Homo sapiens: one gene and its partners. The protein of the gene in region 3 interacts with the protein of the main gene of each other region in a pairwise test. Each region holds a gene or a part of one and is shown on either strand. Other genes may lie near its edges.

Region 1 (3,298 bases), on a different chromosome or scaffold from region 3:
ACTGAGGGAAAAGCGTATTGGTTGGTGACTATTTCCCATCATCAATTCACTTTGTACCTTAGAGATCTTTTACCATGATCTCAACTTTCATAGTCCTGATACTGTTCTAAAAAGGCCTTCTCAATCCCTAACTGGGTACTTACCAGGAGGTTATGTCACAGGTAGGGTTTTTTTGTTCATCGTGAATTAAATAAATTCCTTATGCTCTTAAATAAACTTCATGGTTTTCAAGACAGCTGCTTGAGCCAAATCTGGAAGAGCTCTTCCATTCTGGGATGTGCTTAAGTCATGTGTACGTATGTGTAAAGAGTTTGGAAATGGCATCAGAATGTGTGGGCAACTTTGTTGATACATGTTTAAGTCTCGTGTGAGCTAATAGAATCTATGCAATTCTGGAGACTATAGGTAAAAATGAATTATCTGTATATGGTATAGAAAACAATCTTCTATGAAAAATACTCTGTTTGCTTACTTCTATCCCGCAAACAGAAAACATCCAACAAGAACAATTTTATCTATGTTTATTTAATTACAACAAAGAACGATGTATGCCAAATGGAAAAAAAATATTTTAAAATGATAAAAATATTTAGAAACAGAAATGACTAAATTTAGCTGAAGAATCACCCAGGTGCCATTAAAACACATTTGGAACTTATAATTGGTTATTAGTGTAAGTTAAATTTAGCAACCAAGTCCAAGTTCACTAGGAGTTGTCAAAATACTTTCAAAATGTTACATCAAAAATTGACAACATCCATAAGTATTACATAAAAAGCAAACAAAAAATCATTTAAAAAATGTATCCTGAGATAAAATAAAAATCACACTATGCTAGATTTATTTCCCCTTTCCCCTCACATACAACTGTGAGGCTTCAGTATTTTGCATGTTCCAGGATAAAGTAATAATAATACATGTTGATGCAAATTTCAGCCATTAAAATTAAACTACTTAATAACTTAAATATTCCTACAATGAAACATCCAGACTCTAGTTTCACTAATCAAAATTTTATGAAGACATAAATTGCATTTGGTTTTAACTCCTCAAATCACGACTGAAAACTTTCAACAAAGAATTCTAGGCTTTTTTTTTTCTCATACCAACTGACCCAGAATATATTTTAAGAAATGTTTATTTTCTGTGCATATTTGTTTTAAAATTATAAATCCCTGAGCACTTTTTCTTCTTCCTCCTCATCACTGTCGGTGACATTGACTTGCTGGATGCTAGAAGGAGTTGATGTCGGGGCTGTGAAGACATTCTCCAAGGTTCCAATGTCCAGCTGAGGCACAGGGTTTAAGTTTTCTTCCCCACTGTGGCTATGACTGTTATAGTAAGAAGTTCCATTCATGTTCTCACAACTCCGAGAATTTTCACTGTGTGTGCATTCACTTGAGTAGTCTCTAAAAGAATAGTCTCTATTTAAAGTTGAAAAGATACCCTCATGTTTTGGGTACCTGTCTTCATAATAACTAAGGCATTCTGGCATTGAACTCGGAAAATTTCCATAGCCAAAGGGAGGCCGACTGTAAGGGCATGTACTGCAGCAGAAAAACACAAACAAGGAATTAGATCTTGCCCACATATTGCCTTGCATACAGACTAACAGAGCAAGTTAATGCCTCCTCTTTGGGGTTTGGAAAGTTCCTTTCTGCAAACACTTCATGTATTCCTCTGCTCTTTTCCCACTGCCCAGTCCCCACCCACAAGGAACAGGAAAGGGAGCTTGTGACTGGAATACTCACCAGCACTATTATCTATCGTTAGCCTCAGGCTTCTTACCTTTGACAACCATGATAACAAAATTGCTTATTCTGGTCTTTCTCTCATGATGCCTCATACCATATAAGGTTTTGGAAATGCAGATGTGTGTTGAGCTATGCTAAGAATTGACACTCAGTGGTTGGGCGCGGTGGCTCACGCCTGTAATCCCAACACTTTGGGAGGCTGAGGCGGGCGGAACATGAGGTCAAGAGATAGAGATCATCCTGGCCAACATAGTGAAACCCCATCTCTACTAAAAATACAAAAAATTAGCTGGGCATGGTGGTGCATGCCTGTAGTCCCAGCTACTCAGGAGGCTGAGGCAGGAGGATCGCTTGAACCCAGGAGGTAGAGGTTGCAGTGAGCCGAGACTGCGCCACTGCACTCCAGCCTGGTGACAGAGTGAGACTCCGCCTCCAAAAAAACAAAAACAAACAAAAAAACCCACAGAATTGACACTTAGTAAACAATGCAATAGTGCAATAGTTGTTTTTAGTGGTATTTGAAAGGAAGCTCATGTTGGGGGGGAAATGTATAACTAGATTGAAATCAAGAGATCCAGAATATTGAGGCACTGGAACAGAAGACAAGTTAAATTTTTTCATTGACATTCAATAATAAAGTAAATTTAAAACACTGTTACTACTAGAAAGATTTGAAACTGATAGTAAACTATGGTCTTAAAGGTCTTTTCCAAAACATTTTTTGGAGGGCAGGAATGTGAAGAATCAAAAAGACATTTTGCAGTTTTAAAAGTTATGGTTTTTTGGCCGGGCGCGGTGGCTCACGCCTGTAATCCCAGCACTCTGGGAGGCCGAGGTGGGCGGATCACAAGGTCAGGAGATCGAGACCATCCTGGCTAACACGGTGAAACCCCATCTCTACTAAAAATACAAAAAATTAGCCAGGCGTGGTGGCGGGCGCCTGTAGTCCCAGCTACTCAGGAGGCTGAGGCAGGAGAATGGCGTGAACCCAGAAGGCGGAGCTTGCAGTGAGCCGCGATCACGCCACCACACTCCAGCCTGGGTGACAGAGTGAGACTCCATCTCAAAAAAAAAAAAAAAGTCAAATCCAAAATTTCTGCCATTTGCTGGGCACAGTAGTGCATGCCTGTAGTCCCAGCTACTCAGGAGGCTGACGCAGGAGGATCGTTTGAGCCCAGGAGTTTGAAGCCAGCCTGGGCAATATAGTGAGACCCCCATCTCAAAAAAAAATTTTTTTAAAAAAGATTATACCTCAAAAATTCTGCTACTCAAACCCATTTGTCAATTGTTTTTAAGTATTATTCTCTCTTTCAAAGGCATAGAGCAGGAATTATAGGAAGAGGTAGAGTCCAACCATCTAGTGACAGATAACATAAACATAATGACCATACTCATCGGCAAAACCCATGGCAAGTTAAGTGTTTCATTTCTGGCCTTCACACACACACACACACACACACACACACACACACACACACAGAGTCAACTTTGTTACCTTACTTTTAAAAACCTAAGTATGACAGACATACTAGACTATTATCTCA
Region 2 (7,038 bases), on a different chromosome or scaffold from region 3:
GCAGCTAAGACTACAGGTGCATGCCACCACATCCAGCTAATTTAAAAAATTTTTTGTAGAGATGAGGTCTTGCTGTGTTGCCCAGGCTGGTCTGAACTCTTAGGCTCAAGTGATCATCTTGCCTCAGCCTCCTAAAGTGCTGGGATTACAAGTGTGAGCCACTGTGCCTAGCCTGGAAAGTCTTAACCCATAGGAACTTACTGATCACGAATGAATTCATTAAGATTACCATATGGCGAATATAAGAGTTAATACCTGAGACTTCACTTTTTGCACAGGTTACTAAAACCTGACTAGGCAAGAACAAGCTGCTAATTGCCCAAGAGCCACACACCCAAGGAAGCATAAACATATTTTCTTAGTTGCAGCAGCCTTCCTTAAAGAAAATGTGTCAAGGCTCCCAAAACCTATTGGGGAATTACTAGTATGAACACCCACTTTTGGTGATCACTATTAAAGTGGAAAGCAAATGAATCTCAACAAAAGCCCAAAAGAACAATGGTTAAAATCCTTATCCATTTCTTTCTGCAGAAATCCTATGCAGAAACAACTATGCATTCTGATGGACCTTCTGACATTATGTAGAATTTCACATAAGTCACATTTATGGAAGGGGGATTAAAAGGGAAATATTCCTGGGCGGGCGTGGTGGCTCACGCCTGTAATCCCAGCACTTTGGGAGGGTGAGACGGGCAGATCACCTGAGGTCAGAAGTTTGAGACCAGCCTAACATGGAGAAACCCCATCTATACTAAAAATACAAAAAATTAGCCGGGCATGGTGGCGTGCGCCTGTAGTCCCAGCTACTCGGGAGGCTAAGGCAGGAGAATCGCTTGAACCCGGGAGGCAGAGGTTGTGGTGAGCCAAGATCACGCCATTGCACTCCAGCCTGGGCAACAGGAACAAAACTCCCTCTGAAAACAAAACAAAACCGAACAGGCAGGGGCCGGGTGCAGTGGCTCACGTCTGTAACCCCAGCACTTTAGGAGACCAAGGTGGGCAGATCACTTGAGGTCAGGAGTTTGAGACCATCCTGGCCAACATGGCGAAATCGTCTCTACTAAAAAAAAGAAAATCAGCTGGGCATGGTGGCACACACCTGTAATCCCAACTACTCAGGAGGCTGAGGCAGGAGAATCACTTCAACCTGGGAGGTGGAGGTTGCAGTGAGCCAAGATCGTGCAAGACTCTGTCTCAACAATAACAAAAAAGGAACGGGTAGGAAAAAGCAGTCAGAAGCTATTCTCTATGGTCTTGCCAGCCAGCCTGCTCTAACAACTTCCAGTAAGATAGGTTTTCTGGACAGTTGACACATTAAGATTGAATAATTTTTTTTTCCTTTGAGACAGAGTCTCACTCTGTTGCCCATGCTGGAGTGCAATGGTGCAGTCATAGCTCACTGCAAGCTCAACTTCCCAAGCTCAAGTGATCCTCCCACGTTAGCCTCTTGAGTATCTGGGACCACAGGTGCACACCACCACCTCTGGCAATTTTTTTTTTTTTTAACGAGATGGGGTCTCACTATATTGCCCAGTCTGGTCGTGAACTCCTGGACTCAATTCATCCTCCCACCTTGTCCTCCCAATGACTTTTCATACCATAATTCTACCTTCTCCAACATAAATAGGTATCCTTAAATTAGTTTAAGAAGTTTATACCTAAATTTGTCACAGAAATGCCACCTGAGTTACTACTCAGTTTATAAAAGATACATTTAGTTATCAAATAAGATTTCTGTACTGGAAAAAGGGACCACCTGATTCCTGTTTCAACCTAGGATTTAAATCAGTTACTCTTTTCTCTGGGGATTGGCTTCAAGTCTTCTGATTATATCCAAGAAGGCTAGGATGACTCAAGTCAGTCACTTCAACTGCTTGTCCATTTTCCTGATTGTTTTAAAGGAAAGACAAACATGGCTGTACTGACTGCTATGACCAATTGGCCTACCAGCCACAAATTAGGATGGCCTCCCTTAAAGATCCCTGGAGACACTAATGACTACAATAATGCCACTTTGTAACTAGTCAAGGTTATGAGGAGTCCACATGGGGCCAGATGCAGTGGCTCACACCTGGAATTCCAGCACTTTAGGAGGCTGAGGCAGGAGGATCGCTTGAGGTCAGGAGTTGGAGACCAGCCTGGGCAACATAATGAGATCCTATCTCTACAAAGAAATGAAAAAATTAGCCATGTGTGGTGACACACACCTGTAGTCCTAGCTACTCAGGAGGCTGAGGTGGAAGGATCGCATGAATGCAGAGTTCGAGGCTGCAGTGAGTTAACTGTACCACTGCACTCCAGCCTGGATAACAGTGAGAGCCTGTCTCAAAAAAAAAAAAAAAAATTCCACATGAAGTTAAACTAAGATAATTCAACATTCACTTAACTTTAATACGCATGTTTAACACTGGTCAGTATCAAGCTGAATGTTCTGAGTGTCTCTGCTTTTATTCCCTGTCCAACTGGCAGGTGACAGTCATTTAATAAGGAATCAGTGGCAAAACACAGGAGCAAAGGAAGAACAGCATAACGTATGTATCCTTTATAAGATTAGTCTATTTGGCCGGGTGCGGTAGCTCACGCCTGTAATCCCAGCACTTTGGCAGGCCACGGCAGGTGGATCACTTGAGGTCAGGAGTTTGAGACCAACCTTACCAATATGGTGAAACCCCGTTTCTAATAAAAATACAAAAATTAGCTGGGCATCATGGCACGTGCCTGTAATCCCAGCTACTCAGGAGGCTGAGGCAGGAGAATTGCTTGAACCTGGGAAGCAGAGGTTGCAGTGAGCCAAGATTGCAACACTGCACTCCAGCCTGGGTGACAGAGTGAGACGCGGTCTCAAAAACAAACAAAAAAAAACAGATTAGTCTATTCACTTGACGAAAATAACATGGATGTGAGGCCAGGCGTGGTGGCTCACGCCTGTAATCAGAGCACTTTAGGAGGCCAAGGTGGGTGGATCATGAGATCAGGAGATCGAGACCATCCTGGCCAACATGGTGAAACCCCATCTCTACTAAAATGTAAAAAAAATTAGCTGGGCATGGAGGCACGCGCCTGTAGTCCCAGCTACTCAAGAGGCTGAGGTAGGGAAATTGCTTGAACCCGGGAGGCAGAGGTTGCAGTGAGCCGACATAGGGCCACTGCACTCCAGCCTGGCGACAGACAGAGACTCTGTCTCAAAACAAAAAAACAGAAAAGAAAACCACATGGATCTGAATAGTGGGATGGCCTAAAACATTTCTATTTTGTATTTCAAGCAGAAGATGGCATCACTAACAGAATAGCAGGTACTATATTCCAGAACTGGTGAACAAGGGCTTCTGGTGAAGAAAAAGTTGAATGAGCACCACTGCCAGGAGACGATCTTTTTTTTTTTTTTTTTTTTTTGAGACAGGGTCTCTTTTTGTTGCACAGGCTGTAGTGAAATGGCGCGATGATGGCTCACTGCAGCCTCAAACGATTCTCTCACCTCAGTCCCCTGTGTAGCTGAGACTACAGGCAATACGCCACCATACCTAGCTAATTTTTAAATTTTTTTTGTAGTGACAGGGTCTTGTCATCCTGCCCAGGCTGGTCTTGAACTCCTGGGCTCAAGCAATCCTCCCATCTCAGTCTCCCTAACTGCTGGGATTACAAGTGTGAGCCACCACACCCAGCGAGCAGGTGATCATTTCTTAAGCCAATGGTTCTCAAACTTGAACCAGAGCCAGAATCCCCTGAAGAGCTTGTTAAATGCAGACGGTTAAGCTCTACTCCCCAAGTTTCTCCTTTAATACCACTGAGAAGAGGCCTGAGATTTGTATTTCTAACAAGTTACCAGATGATGCTAATGCTAGTTCAGGGAGCACACTTTGAGAACCACTGTCTAAACCACTCTTAAACCATAACTTTCAGGTGAGACCCCACTCTATAACCTCCAAAAGTCCTTCAACATGATCCGATCACTTTAAAAATGCATACTTAGATACTACCAAAATATAGCTTTTGGTCTTAGGAATGTGGCCTAGAAAACAGACCAGCATTTATAACTTAGGGGTTCAAGACCCTCAGGGTAACAGGTGCATATGATAAACCCATTTATAACCATCCCACAATGAGATTTAGGAGTAGGTCTGAATGCACCCAATGTGACTCTAACTTGAGGTCCTAAAATATTCTTCGAAGCACAATGAACATCATCTGAACCCCAAAGAATAACTATGCATCTGAGTTACTTGACACCACCAACACCATTTATCAAGTTCTCTAAGGAAGACCAAAGCCTTGATACTTAAAGTATAGTCAGTGGACCAGCAGCATGTGCACCACTTGGGAGTGGGTTAAAAAGTAGAATCTTCAGGACCACCCCTGCTTACCACTCAGAATTCCTTTCCCAAGGCCTAAAGGTGATCCCCCAGGCATATTAACATTTGCGAAACAAGCTAACTAAAGGATGTCTTCACACAAAAGGAAACTCTGGTACATTACTCTGAAAAGCACCTGACCAAAACATTTATACTTCTTCTACTCATGGGGGAAAAACAAAAACTCTTCGAATTCTGAACAACAAACTACTAACATTATCCCAGAAAGCAACTGAACACTAAACTAAGAAGGGTCAATGGTTAAGGGGCCCTCTCATCTGGCCAACGTGTTTTTTTGACCCTGTAAGTAAACATACACAGCTACAAGTTTCCACAGAATACACCACCTATTTAAAAAAAAAAAAAAATCACCGGCCGGCTCACACCTGTAATCCCAGCAGTTTGGGAAGCCAAGGTGGGCGGATCACCTGAGGTCGGGAGTTTGACACCAGCCTGACCAACATGGAGAAACCCTGTCACTACTAAAAAGACAAAAATTAGCCGGGCGTGGTGGCGCATGCTTGTAATCCCAGCTACTCAGGAAGGTGAAGCAGGAGAATAGGTTGAACCTGGGGCGGAGGTTGCGGTGAGCGGAGATGGCGCCATTGCACTCCAGCCTGGGCAACAAGAGTGAAACTCCACCTCAAAATCACCAGTGAAAACAGTTTCCCTCTACTGCTTCTAGATCTTCTAGCCCGTGAACTTGAAGTGGCAGAAACATCATTAAAGTCTATTTATTCCAGTACTTTGATCTCAGTACATAGACAAGGAAGAAGGATGGTTTGAATATTATTCCAGTTGTGGAACTAACATATTTATTATAGTGCTAGGAACACATAATCATTTCAAGCTCTCTTTAAAGGGAGAAGACTTCTTTATCCCCAAGTCCCGCATAGAATTACTAGAGTGTTGAAAACCATGAAAGCACTACCCTAACACTGCCTAAACACTATCCTAAAATTGTCATTAACTAAATCCTCTTAAGAGTAGAAAGTAAACCTATTTCCAATTAATTTGGTAGAAAAGACTTAAATCTAAGCTCCACTGTCATTAAGCTAAAAAATGCTTTTAACCAGTTCTTCAAGGCACATTTATCTACGTATGACAGAATTCTGAGGCTGGACTGTCAAAAATGGACAATACTGAGGTTCTTAATCTTTACTGCAAAGAAACATAAGTCCTACCCTAAGAAAGAGAAATATCTCCCTAAAAATGATGTAAGCATAAAGATAGAAACATACACAAAGATGAAATATACATGTTAACCTCTGATCGGTGTGTGAAAGTGATTCAAAAGCCTCTCTGCCTGGACTCTACCAGTAGACTACTGGTTAGAACTTTAGTGAAAAAAATACTGGAAAGGGTGGGTGTGGTGGCTCACACCTATAATCCCAGCACTTTGGAAGGCTGAGGTGGGTGGATCACCTGAGGTCAGGAGTTCAAGACAGGACTGACCAACATACAAAATTAGCCAGGCATGGTGGTGCATGCCTGTAATCCCACCTACTCAGGAGGCTGAGGCAGGAGAATTGCTTGAACCCGGGAAGCGGAGGTTGCAGTGAGCCAAGATCGTGCCATTGCACTCCAGCCTGAGCAGCAGGAGTGAAACTCCATCTCAAAAAAATAAAAATAAAAGTACTGGAAGGGGCCAGGCTCGGTGGCTCACACCTATAATCCCAGCACTTTGGGAGGCCTAGGTGGGTGGATCACCTGAGCTCAGGAGTTCAACACCAGCAACACAGTGAAACCGTCTCTACTAAAAATACAAAAAAAAATAGGCCAGGTGCAGTGGCTCACACCTATAATTCCAGCATTTTGGGGGGCCGAGGCGGGTGGATCACCTGAGGTCAGGAGTTCGAGACCAGCGAGGTCAGGAGTTTGAGACCAGCCTGGCCAACATGGCAAAACCCTGTCTCTACTAAAAATACAAAAATGAGCTGGGCGTGGTGGCACATGCCTGTAATCCCAGCTACTTGGGAGGCTGAGGCAGCAGAATCACTTGAACCCCGGAGGCGGAGACTGCAGTGAGCCGAGATAGCATCATTGCACTCCAGCCTCGGCGACAAGAGCGAAACTCCGTCTCAAAAAAAAAAAAATAAAAATAAAAATAAAAATACAAAAACAAAATTAGCTGGGTGTGGCAGCGTGCACCTGTAGTCCCAGCTACTTGGGAGGCTGAGGCAGGAGAATCGCTTGAACCAGGGAGGCAGAGGTTGCAGTGAGCCGAGATTGCACCACTACACTCCAGCCTGGGCGACACAGTGAGACTCCGGCTCAAAAAAAATAATAAACAAAAAGTACTGGAAGGGGGCCAGGTGCAGTGGCTCACACGTGTAATCCCAGCACTTTGGGAGGCTGAGGCAGGTGAATCACTTGAGTTCAGGATTTCAAGACCAGCCTGGCCAACATGGCAAGATCCCGTCTCCACTAAAACTACAAAAATTAGCTGGGCATGGTGGCGCACGCCTGTAGTCCCAGCTACTTGGGAGGCTGATGCAGGATAATCACTTGAACCCAGGAGGCAGAGGCTAGTGAATCAAGATCGCACCATTGCACTCTGGTGATAGAGCGAGACTCCGTCTCAAAGAAACAAAAAAATAAGTACTGGAACGGCTGGGCGCAGTGGCTCACGCCTGTGATCCCAGCACTTTGGGAGGCCAAGGCGGGCAGATCACCTGAGGTTGGGAGT
Region 3 (7,038 bases):
TCTTGACCTCGTGATCCGCCCGCCTCGGCCTCCCAAAGTGCTAGGATTACAGGTGTGAGCCACCACCCCCGGCCTAGATTTTCTTTATGTTGTGGGACCCAGGAAACACATGCCTCATTATTACTAATTTGATTGGGGAGAAAAACCCTAACTTAATGTTTAAAATGTAACTACTTTCTAGGCTTCTTCTCCTTAATTGTTTTTAGTCTCCTTTATGGCTGCCTTTTCATACTCTTACAAACAGTGCCAGCTGTTCTCCATGTAGCAATCCCAGCCACCATGCAGCATATTGATTACCAGCTTGAGACTGCCCGGAGCCAGGTATACCGCTACACAGCCATCCTTGAGAAGGCAGCCAACGACCCACTCATGAGGGCTGAACTTCAGCCATATATGTTAAAAGAAGCGCTATATAATATACGACAATATGAGGTCTTCCTTCAGATCATTTTGGTGAGTTAAGTTCATAAGACCTGACCTTTTCTATATAATGCAATCTCTTTATATAAGGCCACATCAGGTAGAACCAGGTCACTAATTAAGGAGAAAACCTCAGTAACTGCTCGGTTTATATTGCTTTGGTAGAGTTAGGAATCAAAATAGAAACAGAAAAGTTGGGTTTTGATTTTAATGAAAATATTTTGGTAGAAGTTGAATTTGTATTTTTTCATTGGTACTTGATAATATGATTGTTAGCATGCTGTAGTTAAACAGTGGTGTATATGTAAGTAATACTATGTTTATTTTAGTTCAGAGCAAGTATGTAACATTGTTTGGCAGGTAGTTGCCTTTCAAATAATTTTTGTGTAATTATTTGTTCTCACTGTAACAACTGGTACAAAATATTTTTTTAAAGGTTTTTTGTAGGCCAGGCAGAGTGGCTCATGTCTGTAATCCTAGCACTTTGGGAGGCAAAGGTGGACAGATCGCTTGAGCCCAAGAGTTCAAAATCAGCCTGGCCAACATGGCAAAACCCCATCTCTACAAAAAGTACAAAACTTAGCCGGGCACAGTGACATGTGCCTGTATTCCCAGCTACTCAAGAGGCTGAGGTGGGAGGATCACTTGAGCCCAGGAGGCAGAGGTTGCAGTGAGCCAAGATCACACCACTGCACTCTGACAGAGGGAGACCCTGACCCTGACTCAAAAAAACGTTTGTTTTTTTTTTTGTTTTTTTTTTAAATATAGATTGGAGTCTTGCTATGTTGTCCAGGCTGGTCTTGAACATCTGGCCTCAAGCAATCCTCCTGCCTCAGCTTCCCAAAGTGCTGGGGTAACAGGCATAAGCCACCATACCTAGCCAGATAAGATTTTTATATCTGGTGTTTTTAGATCTAATGAACAAGCCAAACAGTATCCCTAGAGAGTTGAAAAATATGGTAAAGTGGTGGTTATAAACTTTTTAAAAAGTAGCAGTGACCTTTCTGTCAGATAGAAACTTACTCAGAATCTTACAAATATAAAACAGATATCTACATAAAGGGACTGGAGGACCTTTTCACTAAGGGATATCCCCTTGACACTCTAGGGTTGTAAGAAACACAGTCTGTTAATTACTGCATGATGGCAGGTTATGTTCCCACTTGTCACCGTTTACTTTTACACAACCTCTGTTTTCCAGTAACTATGAGATTCTCGGTTAGTGGAACTGTCTTTTGTATGAGTGAATGCTAATTTCTTGAGGGATAGAATAGGATGTATTCTGACCACCTCTTCTTTTTAACTTGCATTGTAATGACTTGGTCCTTCTATTGGATGCACTTGGTCTGTCCTCTCTCCTTACCTAGCTGTTCTGATGACATGACTTCATTCAAACTAGGGGTTGTCCTCACAACTAGCCTATCTAATTGTCTTCAGGAGGAAGGATCCTAGCTGGGAGGCTGAGGTTAGAGAACTGCTTGAGGCCAAGAATTCAAGACCAGCCTGGGCAACATTACAAGACCCTGTCTCTACAAAAAATAAAATTAGCCAAGCATGGTGGTACTAACCTGTAATCCCAGCTACTTGGGAGGCTAAGGTAGGAGAATTGCTTGAGCCCAGGAGCTTGAGGATACAGTAAGCTTTGGCTATGCCACTGCACTCCAGCTTGGGTAGCCAAGGAAGACCCCATCTCTAAAAAGAATAAATAAATAAATAATAATAAAAACCAAGTCACACTCTTGGGGTGGATATTTCCCTTTACATTACCTTGTGGCTATCAGCCTTATGTTAACTAGTCAGCTACTAAGGGGATTTTGTAATCAATTTATTTTGAAGTGCATGTGAGTCCACAGGAGTAGAACTTCACATTCACATTTGTCACCTGTATTCAGAGGTGATATTATAAGAAAGAACCTTGAGAAACTGTCACACAACTGTAAGGATGTTGCAGAAGATGTCATTCATTATATAGAATCTTCTCATAGCTTGCAATCATGAATCCACCAACTAAGTCTTAAATTCTCATTGGCGTTCTACTTCTCACAGCTGGAGAGGACAGTGAGTAAAATGTAGAAATGATGAGTGTGGTCTTTGCAACCAGACTACATGAATTCTAATCATGACTTTGCCACTTACTAAATCTGTGTCCGTAAGGAAGCTGCTTAACTTCCCTGTGCCTTGGTTTCCGTATCTGTAAAATGGGGTTATTCATAGTCTTCACCATGTAAATAAGGCGGCATAGTGCCTGGTGCAACGGCTCAATAAAGTGATGATGATGTTGTTTATGATTATCATCATCATCATTGTTAGGGCCTTAGCTGAACAGCTGTGATTTCATTTGTCTAGTGGAACAAGCTGAAGAGCTTTTATTTTTCCATACAGTATCTCATTTCCAAGCTCCTTGCTGCTCACGTTGTTGAGAAAGTTAATTTTCTTATCCAAGCACTCTTTATGGCTGTTTTGTACTGACTTTAGTCAGGATCAGGATGAGTTTTCTTAACTTTCTGATTCTCTGCTCAAACAGTCTTTTTTGTTTTGTTTTGTTTTGTTTTTAAACTATTCAGTCCTTCCCCATCAGTCTTAGTGACAATTAAGGTTGATTATTATGAAATGGATATTGGTTTAATCAGTATTATCTCTAGATTATAAACTGCATCAATTTAAAATTAGCCAAGATTTTTCCTATATTAAAATCTATGAATATTCGTTTTAAAGTCACATTATTTGAACTAATTAAAAATTTTAAAGTAGCAATTTTGATTTTTAAAAATTCTCTCATCAAAGTTTCAGTTTATGTGAACATTTTAAAAATCCAATATAGGCCGAGCGTGGTGGCTCACGCCTATAATCCCAGCACTTTGGGAGGCTGAGGCAGGCAGATCACCTGAGGTCAGAAGTTCGAGACCAGCCTGGCCAACATGGTGAAACCCCGTCTCTACTAAAAATACAAAAATTAGCCGGGCATAGTGGTGGGTGCCTGTAATCCCAGCTATTCAGGAGACTGAGGCAGGAGAATCGCTTGAACCCAGGAGACAGAGGTTGCAGTGAGCTGAGATCGTGCCACTGCATTCCAGCCTGGGCGACAGAGTGAGACACTGTCTCAAAAAGAAAAAAAAAATCCAATATATAGCCTGGGTAAGATAGTGAATTATTTTGTTTTAATCAGGCCTTTATCTTCTGCAGTGAACACATTGAAATATTCTAGAAAAGAAAAGGGAGTGATGATCGTAGTTTTGTTGACTCTTAACTGAGAGAATAAAATTCCATCTTCCATGGGCTTTTAAAGTGCAAGGCAGACACCAAAGAGGGAAAGCTGCATGTTATTGTGCAAGTAAGAGCTGCGTTTGACAGCACATTTGTTAAAACCTGTAAGTCAAGATTTTTGTAGAGTTATTTCCCCCCAAGCTATTTTTGCAGGGCCCATTCACAGACACACAACACAGGGCTTCTTGATTTTTCTTGATAAGGCAAGTAAAAAAATCAGTTAGGTGGAATTTGTGCTTGTTTTATTATATTTTATTTCTGTTGTAATAAGAACATTAAACATCAGAGATTCCATTCTAATTTCTGCTTCTATAAGTTTGACTAGACTTGTTGAAAATTGTCCGTGGAAGAAAGTATGAGGAACTTATAAAAAGTGTTTAAAAGGTAGGGGGAAGGGGAAGAAGACAAAGAAACATGCTGGGATCACATGCTTTTGCCAAACATTTGAATGTTATGATAAAATTTTTTTAAGTGATAGCATTTTTAGAGGACTAATATTATAATTAAAAACTCTAGATGGGCCGGGCGTGGTGGCTCACACCTGTAATCCCAGCACTTTGGGAGGCCGAGGCAGGCGGATCACCTGAGGTCAGGAGTTCAAGACCAGCCTGGCTAACATGGTGAAACCCCATTTCTACTAAAAGTACAAAAAATTAGCCAGGCATGGTGGTGCGAGCCTGTAATCCCAGCTACTCGAGAGGCTGAGGCAGGAGAATTTCTTGAATCCGGGAGGCAGAGGTTGCAATGAGCCAAGATCACACCATTGCACTCCAGCTTGGACAACGAGAGCGAAACTCCATCTCGAAAAAAAAAAAAAAAAAAGGCCGGGTGCGGTGGCTCACGCCTGTAATCCCAGCACTTTGGGAGGCCGAGGCAGGTTGATCATGAGGTCAGGAGTTCAAGACCAGCCTGACCAAGATGGTGAAACCCCGTCTCTACTAAAAATACAAAAAATTAGCCCGGTGCAGTGGCAGGCACCTGTAATCCCAGCTACTTGGGAGGCTGAGGCAGGAGAATCGCTTGAACGCGGAGGGTGGAGGCTGCAGTGAGCTGAGATTGCACCACTGCACTCTAGCCTGGGCCACAGAGTGAGACTCTGTCTCAAAAAAAAAAAAACAAAACAAACAAAAAAACAACTCCAGATGATTGTGAATAAATTCTTTTTAGTAAAATGTAAGTAGAGTAATTTCTAGGACATTATTAGAAAAAAAGCAAGAAGCTCTGTGTGCCTACTCTGAATGGATCCTGCAACTACAGCTTGGGGGAGGGGTCTAGAGTATTTTTTTTCTTTTTCAGACAGGGTCTCGCTCTGTCACCCAGGCTGGAGTGCGGTGGTGCAATCTCGGTTTACCTCTGTCTCCAGGGTTCAAGCGATTCTTCTACCTCAGCCTTCTTGGTAGCTGGGACTACAGACACGCGCCACCACGCCTGGCTAATTTTTTTGTATTTTTAGTAGAGACGGGGTTTCACCATCTTGGCCAGCCTGGTCTCGAACTCCTGGCCTCAAGTGATCCACCTGCCTCAGCCTCCCAAAGTGCTGGGATTACAGGCGTGAGCCACTGCGCCCAGCCTTAGAATATTTTTTTATTTTTATTTTTTTATTTTTCTTTTTTTTTTTTGAGACGGAGTCTCGCTCTGTCGCCCAGGCTGGGGTGCAGTGGCGTGATCTCCGCTCACTGCAAGCTCCGCCTCCCGGGTTCACGCCATTCTCCTGCCTCAGCCTCTCGAGTAGCTGGGACTACAGGCGCCCGCCACCACGTCCGGCTAATTTTTTGTACTCTTAGTAGAGATGGGGTTTCACCGTGTTAGCTAGGAAGGTCTCTTATCTCTTGACCTCGTGATCCACCCGCCTCCGCCTCCCAAAGTGCTGGGATTACAGGCGTGAGCCACCGCGCCCGGCCCAGCCTTAGGATATTTTTAATTGTAGGTTTTAATAAGTATTGCATGTCGAATGCAACTTTTATTTTGGAGAACGTATGCAAATGTATTCCTGTTTCTTGTTGCTGTTGCATAAATCTTAAAAGACTTTAAAGACTGCATTTTCGTATTGATTCCTAAAACAAAACTTAACAAGCAAGGGGGAAAAAACTCTATGAGGGTAGACAAGAGACCTATTTGATATAATAGATAATAGTGTATGGAGGAATAAAGCAGGAGGAGGAGTAAAGCTTAAACAGCAGTATGGGTAAAATTAAACAGGATACACGTTACATTTATGAATAAAAATTTGTTAGTTGTAATACAATGATAATAGTTGATAGTACTCATGAAGTAATTATTTTTGTCATTTAAAAGAGTCTAGAAAGCATATAATTAGGCTACATACAGATGTCTGAGAATTCAGATGCACCTTTTTCTCTTCAAATAGATGTCATTCTTTTATGCTATACTGATAAACCCACACCACAACCATTTCTGGTGACATCTTGGGCAACACAGTATAATGGTTAAGAGCTGGGCTGTGGGCTCAGATGGTTTGGGATCCACCAAGATTGCTACCCCTTATTAGCTGCATATACTTAGACAATTTACTTACCTTACTATTCTTTGATTTTCTCATTTGTACTTATCCCTTTTTGTATTTGTAAGTATTTAATGTGGTGCTTAGCACATAGTAAGAATAAATATAATTATTTTTTTTTATTTTTTTGGGACAGAGTCTCGCTCTGTTGCCCAAGCTGGAGTGCAGTGGCTCGATCTTGGCTCACTGCAACCTCCGCCTCCCGAGTTCAAGTGATTCTCCTGCCTCAGCCTCCCGAGTAGCTGGGACATAGGCAGGTGCCACCACGCCCAGCTAATTTTTTTATTTTTAGTGGAGATGGGGTTTCACCGTGTTAGCCAGGATGGTCTCGATCTCCTGACCTCATGATCCGCCTACCTCAGCCTCCCAAAGTGCTGGGATTACAGGCGTGAGCCACCGTGCCTGGCCAAATATAATTATTTCAAATTCAGTGTTTAGCAACTTATTTTCAGACCATGATTGTTGTATCAAATATATTGTTTTTCTTTCAATGCTCTGACTTTTAAGATTTTCTGCATTCTTCAATGCGACTTTTTTCTGTTTAATTTTTCATACTTTATTCCTTGTATCAATAGATTAAGAAAGTTAAAGTTTCCCAAGTGTTGATTTATAATGTTTGTGTCATACAAAAAGTTCAGTTTCACAAAGAGTAACATTCAGTGATCTATTTAAATGTAATTTTAATCCTTATTTTAAGGTAAGGGCTTTACAATAAGCTAAATACACACAAACCTGTATATCCTGAACTGCAAAAGCAGATTCCATAGCCATATATGTTTTAATCAAGTACACATTTCCACAGTGAACAAGTACTTAGAAATATGTTAATAGAA

Evidence for each region. Proteins that work in one complex are often made in the same cells at the same time.
Region 1: the proteins of CFAP206 (region 3) and SOX30 interact in binary tests that used the Homo sapiens proteins (3 or more experiments, as listed by UniProt).
Region 2: the proteins of CFAP206 (region 3) and EIF4ENIF1 interact in binary tests that used the Homo sapiens proteins (3 or more experiments, as listed by UniProt).

The regions. Positions count from the first base shown.
Region 1 is NC_000005.10:157,625,175-157,628,472, forward strand, and holds the end of SOX30 (transcription factor SOX-30), read right to left. Parts: intron 1,548-3,298; coding exon 1,166-1,547; 3' UTR 505-1,165; downstream 1-504. UniProt on the Homo sapiens protein: Acts both as a transcriptional activator and a repressor. Binds to the DNA sequence 5'-ACAAT-3' and shows a preference for guanine residues surrounding this core motif. Binds to its own promoter and activates its own transcription.
Region 2 is NC_000022.11:31,479,839-31,486,876, forward strand, and holds part of EIF4ENIF1 (eukaryotic translation initiation factor 4E transporter), read right to left. Parts: intron 1-7,038. UniProt on the Homo sapiens protein: EIF4E-binding protein that regulates translation and stability of mRNAs in processing bodies (P-bodies). Plays a key role in P-bodies to coordinate the storage of translationally inactive mRNAs in the cytoplasm and prevent their degradation.
Region 3 is NC_000006.12:87,417,964-87,425,001, forward strand, and holds part of CFAP206 (cilia- and flagella-associated protein 206), read left to right. Parts: intron 1-244; coding exon 245-453; intron 454-7,038. UniProt on the Homo sapiens protein: Essential for sperm motility and is involved in the regulation of the beating frequency of motile cilia on the epithelial cells of the respiratory tract. Required for the establishment of radial spokes in sperm flagella.